Homo sapiens: one gene and its partners. The protein of the gene in region 4 purifies or fractionates together with the protein of the main gene of each other region. This does not show direct contact. Each region holds a gene or a part of one and is shown on either strand. Other genes may lie near its edges.

Region 1 (4,452 bases), on a different chromosome or scaffold from region 4:
AGGCCTCCGAAGCCTCCAGGGCAGGCCCTCCTCAGACTGGATCCAAGCCCAGGAACCTGTCCTCACCTCAGTGACTTCTCAGACCTTCTTCTTCTTCAGTTTCAGGGCTTGAAGCCAGTTGGGCGACGATCCTTCTGACCTAGGAGGCAGACGGCAAAGGTCCAGAATGCAAACTTTGAGGAAACTGAACACAACAAGGAGACGTGATAGGGACAGAAACCACCCTCTAACCAGAAGAGGCAGTCTGGGGCCTGGCTGCAGGGACCCAAATTCTGACACCATCTTCATACCGTTCATCTGGGGCATGTCCGACTGAGGTTCCTCTTTGAGCCTCAGTTTGCCTCTTCTGTGAAGTGAGAGTTTCCCTTTTCATCAGGGTAATACAGTGAGGTCAGCGGATGCCCAGAGCTTAGGTCACCTACCCTGAGGATTTCTCTGGCTTGGGAGGTAACGTGAGGGGCTTTCCCAGTCCTGGGACCTTGCAGGATTTCGAACGCTGGACCGCGGACTCCTTCTGGCTCGACTTGCTCTCAGCCAGCTCTCCCTCCTCAGCTGAGCGATTCCGGGGGCGCAGCTTGGCCTGAGAAGCAAGTCCAGAAGCAGATAGATAGTAGAGGGACAGGCAGTAGGACTCTCAGGGGGTAAGACCTTATCTCAAGAGTGTGCAGTCCCCAGAATCAAGCAGAGACCCCTCTGCAGTCCTTTCACCCCAAAGGATGGGAAGTCACTTAGAGATGCACTTCCCGCAGAACTGAGCTATGCCTTGCACACCTTTCTGTCCTCAAAAACATATGGCAGGATTGAATTCAGACAAACTGGGTGGGACAAAGCCAGTGGTGACTTCCCACCCCTGTTCCCTCTGCCTGCAATGCCACCCCACCATCCCAGCTCCAGGAGCCAACTCCTGTGCCTGCCGCCGGCTAAGATCAAATACATACAAGAGGCCTTCTCCAATCCACCCTCCCTTCCCATCCCCCTCCACTCTGCTGTTAGGAAATAACTCCTCTCTCTCTGAACAGGCCCAGCCCTTATCTGTGCCTCTCCTCAGGGACACCTAAACTTCTTCTCTCATCCAGGCTAATTATGGGCATCATGTCTCCCACTGCCCCTGAGGTTCCAGAATAAGAACACATCTTGTTCTTCTTTCCATCCCATTTGGCACACAGCATAGGGCCCGGCGGGGCACAAAGGGATCTTCTGGAGCCCTCGATGGAGAGGAGAGTGAGAGGAGGAATGGGAGAGGGGGACAGGGGAATGAATTGATGGATGAAGAGAAGAAAGACAGCATGCAAGGTGGCCACCTGGCCAGATGGCTGGACATGTTTGCTTAATGATCAGATGGTACCTTCAGGGCTGAGGGGCTCAGGCCAGGAAAGAGGTTGACTTTCAGCCCCTTGGTGCCCAACGACATCCGTGTCCGGCGGCTCTGAGGTTCCTCCACTACCTCTTCATCTGAAGATGGCACCCGAGATGCCCGTGGCTCTGCAAAGGCCCGGGAAAGGGGCTCAGAAAAGGCAGCACACCCAGACTCCCCGAACCCATAACCCCTGCAAAAGCTTGGCCTAATGCCCTAGAGATCAAGAGACATCACCAAATAATACATCAGCCCTACCTGTAGAGTCCTGGAACAGGTGTGCATCCGAGTCTGCTGCCTCCGACAGGCCCAAGGTACCCCCAGGCCGAATGACCGGGGCCCGGTGCCCACGCTTGCGCCCCAAGTTGGCACGGCTCCGATACATGGCACTGTCGAGGATCTCGGTGTCCTGCTTGGGGCAATGGTGACACCACTGCCATTGCTGCCTCATCCCACGGGAGCCCCTCAACAGTAGCTGACCAGGAGCTGGACCCCTCCTGCAGCCGGAGCTTCACGTTCACGTGACGCACCTACAACCCGCTTTCTGCCTCCTGGACTGGGACTGCTCAGGGAAGCTCCAGGAATGGGGCTCTCGCTGCATCGCCCTCACCCACCCACTGTCATGGGCTCACCCTCCACTGACCTCAATGAAGGAGAAGTCCTGACTGGGGGATCTGGCAGGAGGGCCTTGGGAGGGTCGCCGAGAAGTCTGTGCTGGCCCCTGATCGCTCCACCTGGCTGCTGAAGAGCCCCAGGTGCCATCCACGTCTTCTGTCTGGCTGGCCTCACCATCAGGCTGCGGCCTCCAGGAGGGTGGAGAGTCCCTGCCAGGCTCCAGCACCTCCTCTTGGGCAGCACCTGCCCCGGCTCCTTCCTCCTCCAACAGGCCCCCAAGGCCCGAGGCCGCTGACTCCCTCCGAGCCACCGCCTTGGAGCTGCTGGCTGCCAGCATCTCCTCCAGCAGGCCCTGGGAGCCGGAGGGTGGGGGGCGGGCCGGGCACCTGCCAGGGCTGTAAAGGGGACAGAGAGAGAACGAGATCATCGTAAGGCCCCATCTCCCTGCCCTGAAGCCTACTTCACAAGCTCCTTCCCCCAGCCCCCAAACTCTCCCTTGCCCTCCTTCCCATGCTTTTTCCAGACTCCAAGGACACGGTCAGGGCCTTGAGCAACACAGCACACAGGTGAAGAGCTGAGCCAGTCTGGCAGGTTCAAATCCCTGAGACCTCGGGTGAGCCCCCTCCCCTGGAAACAGCTCAGGCTCCTCTAACTGCACGGAGTCGCTGCAAGGATGAAAGAAAAATCTAAAGCACTTAGCACAGTCCTGGTCAGCACGCACCGCAGAAGCAGCAGCCATTATTCCTGCTGCTGTTGCATGCTAGCAATGTGTTCCCTCCCAGGGCCACGTGCTCGGGCAGTCACACTCCTTGGGGTGAGCCAGGTACTGGCCCACCTGCCTCTCCGGACTCATGTTGTCTTCAGCCCCCACGTTATGCCTCTTCATTCCCCAGGCTCACAGAGCAACCAGGGACCATCAGAAGACACCCGGCCCTCACATGCTGCTGGCTTTGAACGAGCTGCTCCCTCTTCTGGAAAGCTCCCCGCACCACACCGTCCCTGGTGGTACTGTCCCCTTGGTTCAATTCTGCTTCCGAAGCTGCCCTGCCCCCTCCCAGCCACCATGGCCGCCTCAGCCCTACCAGCCCTGGGCTCCAATCCATGCCAGTTCCTGCTTCTTTCCTGTGGTTCTTTGTCCCCATAGCCTGTCGGTGAGCTCCTCAAGGGCAAAAACGGGGCCCTTTCTGCCTTTATGCCCCCAGCACCTGACCCAGAGCCTGGCTACGCGCCGGACTAAGCAAATGTTTGCCAAGCAAATGAGGGGCTGGGTCACCTTGGACCTCCATGCAGCATATGCATCTTCTGTCTGCTGCTTCCTCAAAACACAATACAGCTGGACATGGGGTGCAGGGCTCACGCCTGTAATTCCAGCTACTTGGGAGGCCAGGGCAGGGGGATCACGTGAGCCCAGGAGTTCAAGACCAGCCTGGGCAACATAGCAAGACCCCATCTAAAAACAAAATACAAACACGGCACAAGCACACCACACACTCTCTCACTAACTCATACTGCCCGCCCTGTCCAGCGGCCACTCCCCAAAATGACACATTCACATTCATCACCATCACACACACTCAGGCAGAGAGCTTGTGCGCTGTTTGTCACTCCCCCAGATGGACCTCGCACCCACCACATCTACAGGCACGGCACAGAGCCACACCTGACACAAACACACGCATCCCCGCATCCCCACACCCCCACCCCACACACACACACTCATACTACGCACAGAGGTGTGGGAAAGCCTGGCACGGCAGTGCCTGGAAGCCAGGCCCCAGGTTCCCACTGGGATTAAAGCAGGAGGAGAGTGGGGCAGGTGAGTCAATACCAAGCAGGAAGAGGGGGCAGGGAGAGAGAGCATGAGTGGTAGTCTGTCCTTCCACAAGCTGCTGACAGATGGAAATTAAAGTGGTCTGGGGAGAGACATTGGGGGAGGAGGCAGTGGCGGCAGCAGAAGTACAGCAAGGCAGCAGAATTGGGAGCAGCCCTGGCTGGGGGCCAAAGCCAGCTCACCCTGACAGCCAGCTTAAAATCAGGGAGAATTTGGAGGGAGGGGGTGGCAACAGCACCCCACCCAGACTACAGAGGCCAGGCCCAAAGCCTCTCCCTGGGGTGGGGCAAAAGAAGGCTAAGGGCAGGCCCCATGAGCTAAAGAGATGTGAAATGCCCTGGCTCACGCCTGTAATCCCAGCACTTTGGGAGGCCAAAACAGGCGGATCACCTGAGGTCAGGAGTTCCAGACCAGCCTGGACAACATGGTGAAACTCTGTTTCTACTAAAAATACAAAAATTAGCCAGGCATGGTGGCAGGCACCTGTAATCCCAGCTTCTTGGGGGAGACTGAGGCAGGAGAATCGCTTGAACCCGGGTGGTGGAGGTTGCAGTGAGCCAAGACCGCGCCACTGCACTCCAGCCCAGGCAACAAGAGCAAAACTCCGTCTCAAAAAAAAAAAAAAAAAAAAAAATCCACTCCTAAAGCGAGA
Region 2 (3,500 bases), on a different chromosome or scaffold from region 4:
GTGACCCAACAAACAGAGCAAATTTTAATTTTAAGCCTGTTATTATAGTTCCTATATACCTACAATTTTTAAATTAATGGAAATGGCTTTCAGGGCAAGGGTCACCATGGCAGCCACCTTGGTTAGGCTTGGGCTCTTGTCTGTCAAGCAGGTTCAGGTTCAATTCTACCCCTTTGAGAAGTAGAGATGATGAGGACCTTCCTCTAGATGATGAGTAATGAGAAGGTCCACTCCACCAATCTCAACTGCTCAGCTATTGTGGACATGAGGTGGACATGCAGCATAATGACTTCGAGCCCTGTGTGGACATGCTGTTCAGAGATGCTGTGTGGTCATCGCCTCATTATGTGCTGCACCCATCTCACCACTCTGGAAATGCTCACTGTCTTTGCCTCCCACATTGAGGCCAGAGATGTGGCAAGGAGCCAAGAATGTGCTGGTACTGGACAATGACAGTGCCAAAAAGACCAACAAGCTGATGTTAGACTGGACTAGAACACTTATCTAAAAAGAGGTTTACTTAATCATTCAAATCACTATCTGGAGGGCCACAGAGTAAGGCCCTCTAAATGCTTGGCAAGACCAAGATATCATAATTAGGAAGCTTACTTATGGGGGTGGGAAGCTGAAAGTCCTGTGAACACAATGTTTCTGGGTCAAGGCAAGATTATGGGGGTGTCTGGATGAACCTGAATTTATTTTACTTTCTTATGTCAATCACTGCTTATCCCTTCCAGTATGACTTCTCCCAGTGCTCACTCGAGGTACCTCTTCACTCTTATTTACCAAATCCAGTTGGAAAGAATACTGTCAGAGTGAGTGCTGTTTTCTCCGTCCTAATCTTTCTATCTCAGTAGCATTTGCCACTCTTAATTCATTCATGCCTTGGAAACTTTTTCCCTCTTGGGTCCTTTTTCTTTAAAACACACACCTGGGTGTGTGTTTTAATCTGATCGCTAAAGGAGAGTACTTCTAGCTGGTGAAGGAAATACTTTCATTAGGGGCTTTGCAAGGCTCCAAGTATATATATACACCATCATTTTGGTAACCATAAGGCTTTGCAGTTTATGGGATCTATTAGGAAGATGCTCCCAGAGGGGTCAAATGTTCCCAGCAGTGGCATGGCAGAGCACCAATGATGGCAGATGCTCAGATAGAAGGAATGCACAGAGGCACCCAAACTGTGGACATACTCTTGAATACAAGAAACACCTAGAGACTAACAGAAATAATTGTAGGGGAAGGGGTGTTTTACAGGAGATGAAGGGGTGTGAACTGGAGAGATATGAGAATTAATGAAGTTGTGTTCTCTTTCATACCAATAGGCTGTGCATACACTGTGTGCTTGGCACTATGCTAGGCACTAGATAAAGAGACATGGTTTCAATTATCAAGGAACTCAGTCTTGTAATCAGGGCAAATGTAGGAAAGCAGACAATGAATAGAACCTCCCAGAACATTTTTGTGTTTCAATTTTTAAAGTAGAGATTTTTCATTAGAGTTTGAAATAGTTAATTAAATTTTCTTGGGCTGGTTTGATCCAATTCCTCCCTACTTCTCTATTTTAGATGGAAATTGAGGCCCACCCATAGAGGTTAAGTGAGGTTTCCAAAATCAGTGACAAGGTGGCTAGAAGCACGAAAGGGAAAGGCCATATCTAACACTCACAATCACTCTTTTCCATTACATCATAATACCTCTTTTTTTTTTTTTTTTTTTTTTTTTTGATGGAGTTTTGCTCTGTTGCCCAGGCTGGAGTGCAATGGCGCGATCTCGGCTCACTGCAACCTCCGCCTCCTGGGTTCAAGCTATTCTCCTGCCTCAGCCTCCTGAGTAGCTGGGATTACAGACATGCACCACCACACCTGGCTAATTTTGTATTTTTAATAGAGACAGGGTTTCACCGTGTTGGTCAGGCTGGTCTCTAACTCCTGACCTCAGATGATCTGACCGCCTTGGCCTCCCAAAGTACTGGGATTACGAGCGTGAGCCATCATGCCCAGCCCATAATACCTCATTTATAATCCACTAAATGGATGTCTCTACTCTGGTTTTTCATTCATACCTATATGGAAAAGAAAAGTATAGTGAAAAAAGCATGGCTACATAATCAGAAAAACCTGGGATCTGAATTTTCTGACAAATTTACACTACTTTGTTTAGCATTAAGCCTGGTCGTAATAAAACAGCTAAGTGTTCTGGAAGAAATTATGATAAATCAGTACTACTAACAAGACTGGACATGTGAGTTTGCACCTGCTTATTAGGCTTTATGCTCCTGTCCTAGGATTTCTTTTTCTTTTCTTTTTTCTTTTTTTTTTTTTTTGAGATGGAGTCTTGCTCTGTCACCCAGGCTGGAGTGCAGTGGCACAATCTCGGCTCACTGCAAACTCTGCCTCCCGGGTTCACACCATTCTCCTGCCTCAGCCTCCCGATTAGCTGGGACTACAGGCACCTGCCACCACGCCCGGCTAATTTTTTTGTATTTTTAGTAGAGACGGTGTTTCACTGCGTTAGCCAGGATCTCGATCTCCTGAGGTCAGGTCTCGATCTCCTGACCTCGTGATCCACCCGCCTCGGCCTCCCAAAGTGCTGGGATTACAGGCATGAACCACCGCGCCCGGGCTTTCTTTTCTTTTTTTTTTTTTTTGAGACGGAGTTTCGCTCCTGTTGCCCAGGCTGGAGTGCAATGGCGTGATCTCGGGTCACCGCAACCTCCGCCTCCCAGGTTCCAGCGATTCTCCTGCCTCAGCCTACTGAGTAGCTGGGATTACAGGCATGTGCCACTGCGCCCAGCTAATTTTTGTATTTTTAGTAGAGATGGGGTTTCTCCATGTTGGTCAGGCTGGTCTCAAACTCCCGACCTCAGATGATGCACCTGCCTCGGCCTCCCAGAGTGTTGGGGTCACAGGCGTGAGCCACTGGGCCCGGCCTGTCCTAGGATGTCTTAACAGATTATATGAATACCTCTCAGCAAAACTAACTGAAAAGTGAAGATGGAAGAATGACAGTTTTAATATTAATTGATGACTTGTTAGAAAACAGCCACACCAAACAATCTTTAGGGCTTGCTTTATCCTACAATGGTAACTAGTAAATTAAGGAGGTAATACATAATCAAGGATCCAGTTTAAAAGCATAAATATTTGGCAGGTGCAGTGACTCACGCCTGCAATCTCGGCACTTTGGGAGGCCAAGGCAGGCGGATCACGAGGTCAGGAGTTTGAGACTAGCCTGACCAACATATTGAAACCCTGTCTCTACTAAAAATACAAAAAATTAGCCGGGTGTGGTGGCAGGTGCCTGTAATCCCAGCTACTTGGGATGCTGAGGCAGGAGAATCACTTGAACTCAGGAGGTGGAGGTTGCAGTGAGCCGAGATCGTACCACTGCACTCCAGCCCGCTGGGAGACAGTGCAAGACTTCGTTTCAAAAAAAAAAAAAAAAAGTATAAAATATTTTTCATGTGCTCTAACAAAGCCCTCATATTTCATCTATTT
Region 3 (4,452 bases), on a different chromosome or scaffold from region 4:
AAAGCAAAAAATGTCCATAAAAACAAAGAGATCTGGACATGCCATCAATACAAGGCAAAGATTGAATCATCACAGAACTTGACCCTACACATTTAATATCCTAATACAGCTCAATGCCAGCAAGCAAACCACAGTTTTCTACTTCTGGTCTATTTAAGTATTCATAAACATAACCCCATTTTCTTTCCCTTATTTTCTTTCTACTAATTCCTAAAAAAAAAATTGTTTAAAACATCAAAAAAAGTCCATTGTTTTGATTACATTTTTGTATGTACCAATGAAATTGGTTGTACAATAAAACATTCTGATGTATTTTTATTTTTTTGAGATGGGTTTCACTCTGTTGCCCAGGCTGGAGTGCAGTGGCACAATCACAACTCACTGCAGACTCTACCTCCTGGGCTCAGGTGATCGATCCTCCAACTTCAAACCTCCCAAGAGGCTGGGACTACAGGAGTGTACCACCATGCTCAGCTAATTTATATACATTTTTAGAGACAGGGTTTCACCATGTTGCTGAGGCTGGTCCCAAACTCCTAGGCTCAAGAGATCCACCCACTTCAGCTACCCAAAGTGCTAGAATTACAGGCATGCGCCACTGGCTGATTTTTTTTTTTTTTTTTTTGAGACGGAGTCTCACTCTGTTGCCCAGGCTGGAGTGCAATGGGTGCAATCTCGGCCCACTACAATCTCCACCTCCCAGGTGTTCAAGTGATTCTCCTGCCTCAGCCTCCTAAGTAGCTGGGATTACAGGTGCCCACCACCACGCCCAGCTAATTTTTGTATTTTTAGTAGAGATGAGGTTTCACCATGCTGGCCAGGCTGGTCTTGAACTCCTGACCTCAGGTGATCCACCCGCCTCGGCCTCCCAAAGTGCTGGGTTTATAGGCGTGAGCCATCACGCCCAGCCCCAGCTGTACTTATAAATGTAACATATATGCTAGTAATTCAAGTCACAGATCAACTAGAAATTTCCTATAAAATTGACTTTAACCCCAATTAAATAAAAAAGGGGGCCTGTTATTTATACTCACAAAAATGAGAACTGAGGCAGTTATTGAGATTAAAGAAAAAAGATAGTTGTTGAAGAATATAGAGGTTTTGCTTAAATTATATTGCTTACTTCAGAGTTTCCTAGGATAACTACTCACCTCTCATCTTAATTTTTTTTAAGGTAAGATGAAAAAATCTTGTTATTCTTCCAAAACATTTTTGAAGATTTTTGATTTTTTTTAAGTTGTCAAAATATGTAACATATGCTGCTGGTTACTTAAAAAAAAATTCTGAACTGTAGGAAAATAGTGTAATAAACTCAAGTAAAACCAAGAGTTTTTATTCAGTGGACATAGGAGAAATCCACAAATCTATTTAAATAGATTGCACAGTGTCAACACTATCAAACAATTTCTAGCATCAGGACAAAGGATATTGTTAAGCGGTTCTTACAAAACACATACAGTTAGAAATGTAATTAAAGTGATTCTAAGTTTGAAAAAAGATAAAAATAAGTAACTCTAAGTAGAAATAATGTCAAGCTTTTGATTCAATAGTTAGCTGAAGTTAATTCATTTCAAGATAGCACTCGTCTCAAATTATTTCTGAATCAGAATGGTTATCTATTATAAAGTAAAAGGCTTAACTGCTATAAAGCCTTTGAAAATGTACATGAGGCTGGGTGCAGTGGCTTACACCTGTAATTCCAGCACTTCAGGAGGCCTAGGTGGGCAGACTGCTTGAGCCCAGGAATTTGAGACCAGTCTGGGTAACATGGTGAGACCCTGTCTCTCAAAAAAACAAAAAAACAAGAACAAAAAATTAAAAAAACAGAAAAGAAAATGTATGTGGAAATCTAGCAGTCTCAGAGATCACACATAGATGAGTTCTATTTCTTCAGATAGCTATGCTGTCTTCCATTCCTATAGGCCAAATGAAACTATAAATACTACTTAAATATAGTACATAACTTCGCTTTTGTATTCTTTTTTAGTTTACCTCATAAAAGTTGCTACAGGGGCTGGGCGCGGTGGCTCATGCCTGTAATCCCAGCACTTTGGGAGGCCAAGGCGGGTGGATCATGAGGTCAGGCGTTCGAGGCCAGCCTGGCCAACATGGTGAAACCCTGTCTCTACTAAAAATACAAAAAATTAGCCGGGCATGGTGGTGTGCGCCTGTAATCCCAGCTACTCGGGAGGCTGAGGCAGGAGAATTGCTTGAACCTGGGAGGCAGAGGTTGCAGTGAGCTGAGATCGCACCACTGCACTCCAGCCTGGGCGACAGAGTGAGACTCCGTCTCAAAAAAAAAAAAAAAGTTGCTACGGGATGGTAGAAAGGGCATTAGACTAGTTTCTCATTCTGGCTCTGCCACTGACTAGCTTGGTCACCAGAGGCAAGTCACTTAATTTCCCTAGGCCTTAGTTTCCTATATGCTGGACGAGGAAGCTGGAGCTGGCTAGATAGTGGTTGATCTACGGCTGGTGACTCTTCGTAGTATAAAATACCTAAACAGAAGCTGGACATGGTAGCTTACATCTATAATTCTAGTACTTTGGAAGGTCAAGGCAGGAAGATTGCTTGAGCCCAGGAGTTCACAATTATAGTGAGCTATGATCATGCCACCGCATTCCAGCCTGGACAACACAGCAAGACCCTCTCTCTAAAACAAAACAAAACAAACAAAAAATAAATTCCTAAACAATTGAGTTCCTCACAACATAAAATTTGTGTTCTCTAATTTCAAGTTTACTTAGCATAAGGTTTTAGCAATACACATTTACTCCATGTCCCCTCCACAGTTGGAAGACTCAACAAATTTCAAGACAATCAAGGGTTAATTCATGTGTTAATGACACTAATATAACAATGACTTAGGCCTATCTTCAGTTTTGCCCATTAATGGAATCAAAATTCAAAAATGGAAAGGCAAGAAATTTGAGAAAAATTCCTGCCTTTGTAAACAGAAACCTCAACCAAGGGCAAATATCTAATGATTGAAGGATCAGCATTATTAACTCAGATTTCTTTGACACCTAGTTTGGTTCTGCATTTTTCCCTTTGTACTATTTTGGTATGAAGGCTCTCTCTTCATGGTAAGAGAAGCTGCTGACTATACTACTATAACATTACAATGTGCAGTCGATATCTTAGGAGAATTAGTAGACACCTGGACAACTTTTAAACTTTCCATTTTTCAATGATCACTGATAAAACATCAAGGCTAATTTAGTTATTTAGAAACAATCAATAGTATTTAACACTCTATTGGGGGAAAAAAAGGATGGCAGAAATCACCAAAAAAAAAAAAAGTTGTAAAATATGTTGAGTAGATAAGCTGGCATCTGTTCTCAGAACTTCTCATCATAGGCAAGATTTATTTTCTATTCTGTATCACGAAGTGATAACCTTTCTAACTATATGGCACTCTTTGTACTCTTGCAGCATTTTATTCTATCAGAGTAAGTGAAGACTATGAAGAATGTTCTCAGTGCATCTCAATTTTTTTTTACAATCTTAGTCTCTAGTATACCAATGAGTTATTATTTTTAAAGATTCTCAGATATTTGATCAATTGTATACTTGCTAGATCAGCTTTAATTTTCAAAATATCTATGTTTCCAGTTTTGGTGAAAAAATATTTCTCAATGTCTTTTTCTTCTGTTAACTTATATCAACCACCTCTACTAAACGATTAATACGTCTTTCTTTTTGGGGTTCTGTTATTGAATGAACACCTGACACTCGCAGGTGATTTCTATTAGCTGTGAAAAAAATCACATCAGAGCCAATTTTTGGCAAATTTACATATAAATTAGAAGCCTACTGAATGAAAAGGTTTTCTAAGATTAATAAGATGAAAGCAAAGTAGCAGTTTTTTCCTACCAGGCATCATCAAGTAATGAAATGTCTACTGAAGTAGAATGTCCGTATAACTAAAGTTTTTATGTTCAGGTACTGAGACTTATTTTAAGCATTTTAAATACATAGGTCCAAAATGTTTATATAATTATGTAACTTGTTAAACATCCTTGGACATAAAAACTTTCCCCTGATGGTTTAGGATCATTATATTGAACGTAAACTATTTGATTGTGTGATAACATAATCGTGCTGATTTTTTAGCTTTTTCATTTTTGCCTCTATGTCAGACCACATGACATTTTTTGGTAGCGTCTGACTCATCAACCCTCTTTAAAATGCTGCTTCTCACATTTCATGGGTTAAGAAACCACACAACTAACTTAACTGTGTGTTAAATAGGAGCCAACTAGGATCTAAGTGCAGGTCAAATTAAAAAGTAAACAATTCAATATAGTAGCTTTTTGACAGCTATTTCTTATAAATGGAGGTCTTCTGCACAGGTTCAGTGGCCAAAGTTTTCCAAGTCTGAAACTAGCCTAAAGCAGGTCCTTAATTAGTCCCAGAATCTAAAAATGTTTATTTTCTCAGACCTAAATT
Region 4 (4,452 bases):
CCAGTAAGCAAAATGCCATTAAGTATCATAAAGATGTTGCCTTGAATTCTTGTATTTTAAAAAAAGCTTCAGACTGTGGTCATTGAAAAAAACAGTAAATAAAATGTGTTACTAGCCACTTGGATGGAAAACAGAGATTTTACTATCCACAAAATGGGCCGGGCACAGTGGCTCACATCTGTAATCCCAGCACTTTGGGAGGCCAAGGCGGGTGGATCATCTGAGGTGAGGAGTTCAAGACTAGCCTGGACAACATGATGAAACCCCGTCTATACTAAAAATACAAGAAATTAGCTGGGCGTGGTGGCAGGAGCCTGTAATCCCAGCTACTTGGGAGGCTGAGGCAGAAGAATCGCTTGAACCCAGGAGGCGGAGGTTGCAGTGAGCCTAGATCGTGCAATTGCACTCCAGCCTGGGCAACAAGAGCAAAACTCCGTCTCAAAAAAAAAAAATCCACAAAATGGTATAAAGACGATCTTGCCTATACAGCTTGCCTAGAAAGCTAGGCTTAGATATATAAAATCTCATTTTCTGAAAAGAGTTGTTATACCTCAGTGTTGTGGCGAGAGGAATAAAAGCCTCCCCACCTCATTCATGAGGAACTTCTTAGAAGCACATGCTCTGGGCAACATGCCCCGCTAGTCTGAGATTTCTCCTAATGCTGCCAGAAACCAACCTAGTACACGTTTCTGGTCTTCCCCAACATCTCCCACGTTCAAGCTGCTACCTTCAGTACCATTTCTCCCCATTTTCTACCTGTGAGATATCTACCCTGCAAGGACTAAAGCAGGCCTCCCTTACCCCAAAGCTCTGTTTGAAAGAAACTTCTTCCTTTCTCTCCATATTCACAGCACATTCACTGCCTTTCTCCCTGGCATTTACGTAACTGTGTTTGGATTATTGTTAGTTATTTGCATGCTTGTTTGTTATCAGGGGAAGTCCCTGTCTTATCTCCATACCCACCTCTGTTCAATAAGTATTTGTAGAAGTCTATTATCTGATTAGATTAAGAGAAGAGGCAGAGCTGTCTGGAAGCAATGAGCAACTAAAACTAGATGGGGAAGTACAAGTTGATAATAAGGTGAGGAATATTTTGGCTGTAGCTCAAAGAGGCCCAGACTGAGGAAATAAACCTGTAATTTCAGCACTTCTGTCCAGAGCAGTCCAGGCTTCCTTCTTCAGGACTGGATCAGAGAGAAACTGCTGGCCGATGCTATGGCTCTTACTCAGATCTAAGGGCAGCATGTTGCCTAAACTAGTAAATTATTTTATTGGACTAAATTGAAGTGTGTTTCAGTCCTTAAGAATGGAGACCTCAAACATGCTACGTGGTACGTTTTTTCTGTATTACTATAAGTTTGAATTATTATTCCTGACATTGACAACTTACAGTTTGTAATACTGAAGTGTTACTTAGGAAAACAAATGGGCATGCAGATTTTGATGTAATTGCAACTGTATGTGTCTGTTGTGAAAGCCACCAGCAGAATTGGATGGTTGACTGTAGTATCGGGGTGTCCAGTCACCCATCTCAAAACCCAGAGTATTACATGTCTAGCTTAATTGTTAGGTTTTAAGACAAAAGGAACTGAGGCTCATCAGAGCAGAACAACAGGTAGTCCCTAGGAAGTCACGTGGGAATGAGCTTGAATAAGTTTGTTACCTTGTTGGTTGGCAGATGTACTTGGAGTGTGTATCTTAAGCTTTTGTTTTTTCACGGGCATCTTTCTGTTTTGAGCAAAGGCGGCTTCAATGATCCATCCTAAAGAGGTGCCCCCTGAGGCCATCTTGCTGGCAGTCTACCTTGAACTGCAGAATGGTGAGTAATTCTCTCTGTTTAGGACTTTATCCCTTGAAAGAGCCTGAGATTTTTTGGTTGGGAGACAGGGTCTCACTGTGTTGCCCAGGCTGGAGTGCAGTGGTACCATCAGAGCTCACTGCAGCCTCCAAACTCCTAGGCTCAAGCAGCCTTCCCACCTCAGCCTTCCAGGTAGCTGGGACTACAGGTGCACGCCACTGAGCCCAACTAATTTTTTAAATTTTTTTTAGAGATGTGGTCTCGCTTTGTTGCCCAGGCTGCTCTCAAACTCATGGGCTCAAGCAGTCCTCCCATCTTACCCTCCCTAGTAGCTGGGATGACAAGCATAAGCCACCATGCTCAGCCAAGGCTGAGATTTTTTTTTTTTTTTTTTTTTTTTTTGAGACAGAGTCTTGCTCTGTAGCCCAGGCTGGAGTGCAGTGGCGCGATCTCGGCTCACTGCAAGTTCCGCCTCCCGGGTTCATGCCATTCTCCTGCCTCAGCCTCCTGAGTAGCTAGGACTACAGGCGCCCGCCACCACGCCCACCTAATTTTGTGTATTTTTAGTAGAGACAGGGTTTCACCGTGTTGGCCACGATGGTCTCGATCTCCTGACCTCATGATCTGCCCACCTCGGCCTCCCAAAGTGCTTGGATTACAGGCGTGAGCCACCGCACCCGGCAAGGCTGAGATTTTTAATGTCTGTTTTTTCTCTTCAGAGTCAGAAATTTGCCTTCCTTGAAGATAGGTGACCCATCAAATTCTTTTTTTTTTTTCTTTTTTGAGATGGAGTCTCGCTCTGTCACCCAGGCTGGAGTGCAGTGGCACTATCTCAGCTCACTGCAACCTCCGCCTCCCGGGTTCAAGGTTCAAGAGATTCTCCTGTCTCAGCCTCTCAAGTAGCTGGGATTACAGGCACCCACCAACATGCCTGGTTAATTTTTGTATTTTTAGTAGAGACCGGGTTCACCACGTTGGCCAAGCTGGTCTTGAACTTCTGACCTCAGGTGATCTGCCTGCCTCGGCCTCTTAAAGTGCTGGGATTATAGGCGTGAGCCAGAGCGACGACCCATCAAATTCTTCTACATAAAAATATAGTTAGGAGCTGGGCGCAGTGGCACATGCCTATAATCCCAGCACTTTGGGAGGCTGAGGTGGGCTGATCACCAGAGTTCAGGAGTTCAAGACCAGCCTGGGCAACATGGCAAAACCCCATCTCTACAAAAAATACAAAAATTAGCTGGGTGTGGTGGTGTGCGCCTGTAGTTCCAGCTACTGGGAAGGCTGAGATTGGAGGATCACTTGAGCCCTGGAGGTTGAGGCTGCAGTGAACTGAGATCATGCCAGAATAAGACCTTGTCTAAAAAAATAATAATAGGCCGGGCACAGTGGCTCACGCCTATAATCCCAGCACTTTGGGAGGCCGACACGGGTGGATCATTTGAGGTCAGGAGTTCGAAACCAGCCTAGCCAACATGGTAAAACCCCATCTTTACTGAAAATACAAAAATTAGCCAGGCGTGGTGGCGCATGCCTGTAATCCAGGTACTTAGGAGGCTGAAGCAGGAGAATCGCTTGAGCCTGGGAGGTGGGAGGTTGCAGTGAGCCGAGACACACCACTGCACTCCAATCTGGGCGACAGAGTGAAACCCTGTCTCAAATAATAATAATAATAAATACCTATATCTATCTAGATAGATAGATAGATAAATAGATAAATTGATAGATATAGTTAGGGAGTTTTTGGTATCCTACAAATACTCCTTACAAGTTAAGCTTATCTCCTTTTATCTGAGAAAATACAGAATCATAACTTCAGACACTTAATTATAATTAATCACTATTAATTAACCTTTCTCCTAGGCAGCTAAATGACTGAGAACATGAGTTAGAATGCAGTTGCTTTGAGTTATACACCATAGTATTTTGAACACATATTAACAAGTTTTACAGTAAGCCAGTTCTTGCTGAGAATTATTTATTCAAACATAAATTCAGGTCATGCCTCTAGGGCATATACGATCTCCAAGATGTATCTCACTAGAAGAAAGGCTGTTGGCTCTAAATATGAGATAGCATGAAGTAGAAAAGAGACATGAATGAGAGAGATTAGAAGGGACAGAAATAGGCCAGGTGCGGTGGCTCATGCATGTAATCCCAACACTTTGGGAGGCCGAGGCGGGCAGATCATGAGGTCAGGAGATCGAGACCATCCTGGCTAACATGGTGAAACCCTGTCTCTACTAAAAATACACAAAATTAGCTGGGCGTGTTGGCATACAGTTGTAGTTCCAGCTACTCAGCAGGCTGAGGCAGGAGAATTGCTTGAATCCGGAGGCGGAGGTTGCACTGAGCCGAGATCGTGCCACTGCACTCCAGTCTGAACGACAGAGCGAGACTCCGTCTCAAAAAAAAAAAGGGACATAAATGAAGTCACAGCCAAGCATGGAGTCCTAGCTACTCTGGAGGCTGAGGCGGGAGGATTGCTTAAGGCCAAGAGTTCAAGGCTATAGTGTGCAGTATTGCTCCTGTGAACAGTCACTGCACTCCAGCCTGGGCAATATAGTGAGACCCTGTCTCTTTTTTAAAAAATAAAAAATTTTAAAAAGGCTGGGCACAGTAGCTCATGCCCGTAATCCCAGCTACTCTGGAGG

Evidence for each region.
Region 1: the proteins of CNOT10 (region 4) and TNKS1BP1 purify together in Homo sapiens (affinity purification with mass spectrometry; 4 studies listed by BioGRID and IntAct, with this or other methods). This does not show direct contact.
Region 2: the proteins of CNOT10 (region 4) and CAPZA1 purify together in Homo sapiens (affinity purification with mass spectrometry; one large-scale study listed by BioGRID and IntAct). This does not show direct contact.
Region 3: the proteins of CNOT10 (region 4) and BTG3 purify together in Homo sapiens (affinity purification with mass spectrometry; one large-scale study listed by BioGRID and IntAct). This does not show direct contact.

The regions. Positions count from the first base shown.
Region 1 is NC_000011.10:57,300,462-57,304,913, forward strand, and holds part of TNKS1BP1 (182 kDa tankyrase-1-binding protein), read right to left. Parts: intron 2,635-4,452; coding exon of another isoform or gene 2,508-2,634; exon of another isoform or gene 2,404-2,507; intron 2,365-2,403; coding exon 1,998-2,364; intron 1,764-1,997; coding exon 1,613-1,763; intron 1,483-1,612; coding exon 1,346-1,482; intron 581-1,345; coding exon 423-580; intron 140-422; coding exon 79-139; 3' UTR 67-78; intron 1-66.
Region 2 is NC_000001.11:112,622,832-112,626,331, reverse strand, and holds part of CAPZA1 (F-actin-capping protein subunit alpha-1), read right to left. Parts: intron 1-3,500. UniProt on the Homo sapiens protein: F-actin-capping proteins bind in a Ca(2+)-independent manner to the fast growing ends of actin filaments (barbed end) thereby blocking the exchange of subunits at these ends.
Region 3 is NC_000021.9:17,598,870-17,603,321, forward strand, and holds part of BTG3 (protein BTG3), read right to left. Parts: intron 1-4,452. UniProt on the Homo sapiens protein: Overexpression impairs serum-induced cell cycle progression from the G0/G1 to S phase.
Region 4 is NC_000003.12:32,768,144-32,772,595, forward strand, and holds part of CNOT10 (CCR4-NOT transcription complex subunit 10), read left to right. Parts: exon of another isoform or gene 1-3; intron 4-1,743; coding exon 1,744-1,819; intron 1,820-4,452. UniProt on the Homo sapiens protein: Component of the CCR4-NOT complex which is one of the major cellular mRNA deadenylases and is linked to various cellular processes including bulk mRNA degradation, miRNA-mediated repression, translational repression during translational initiation and general transcription regulation.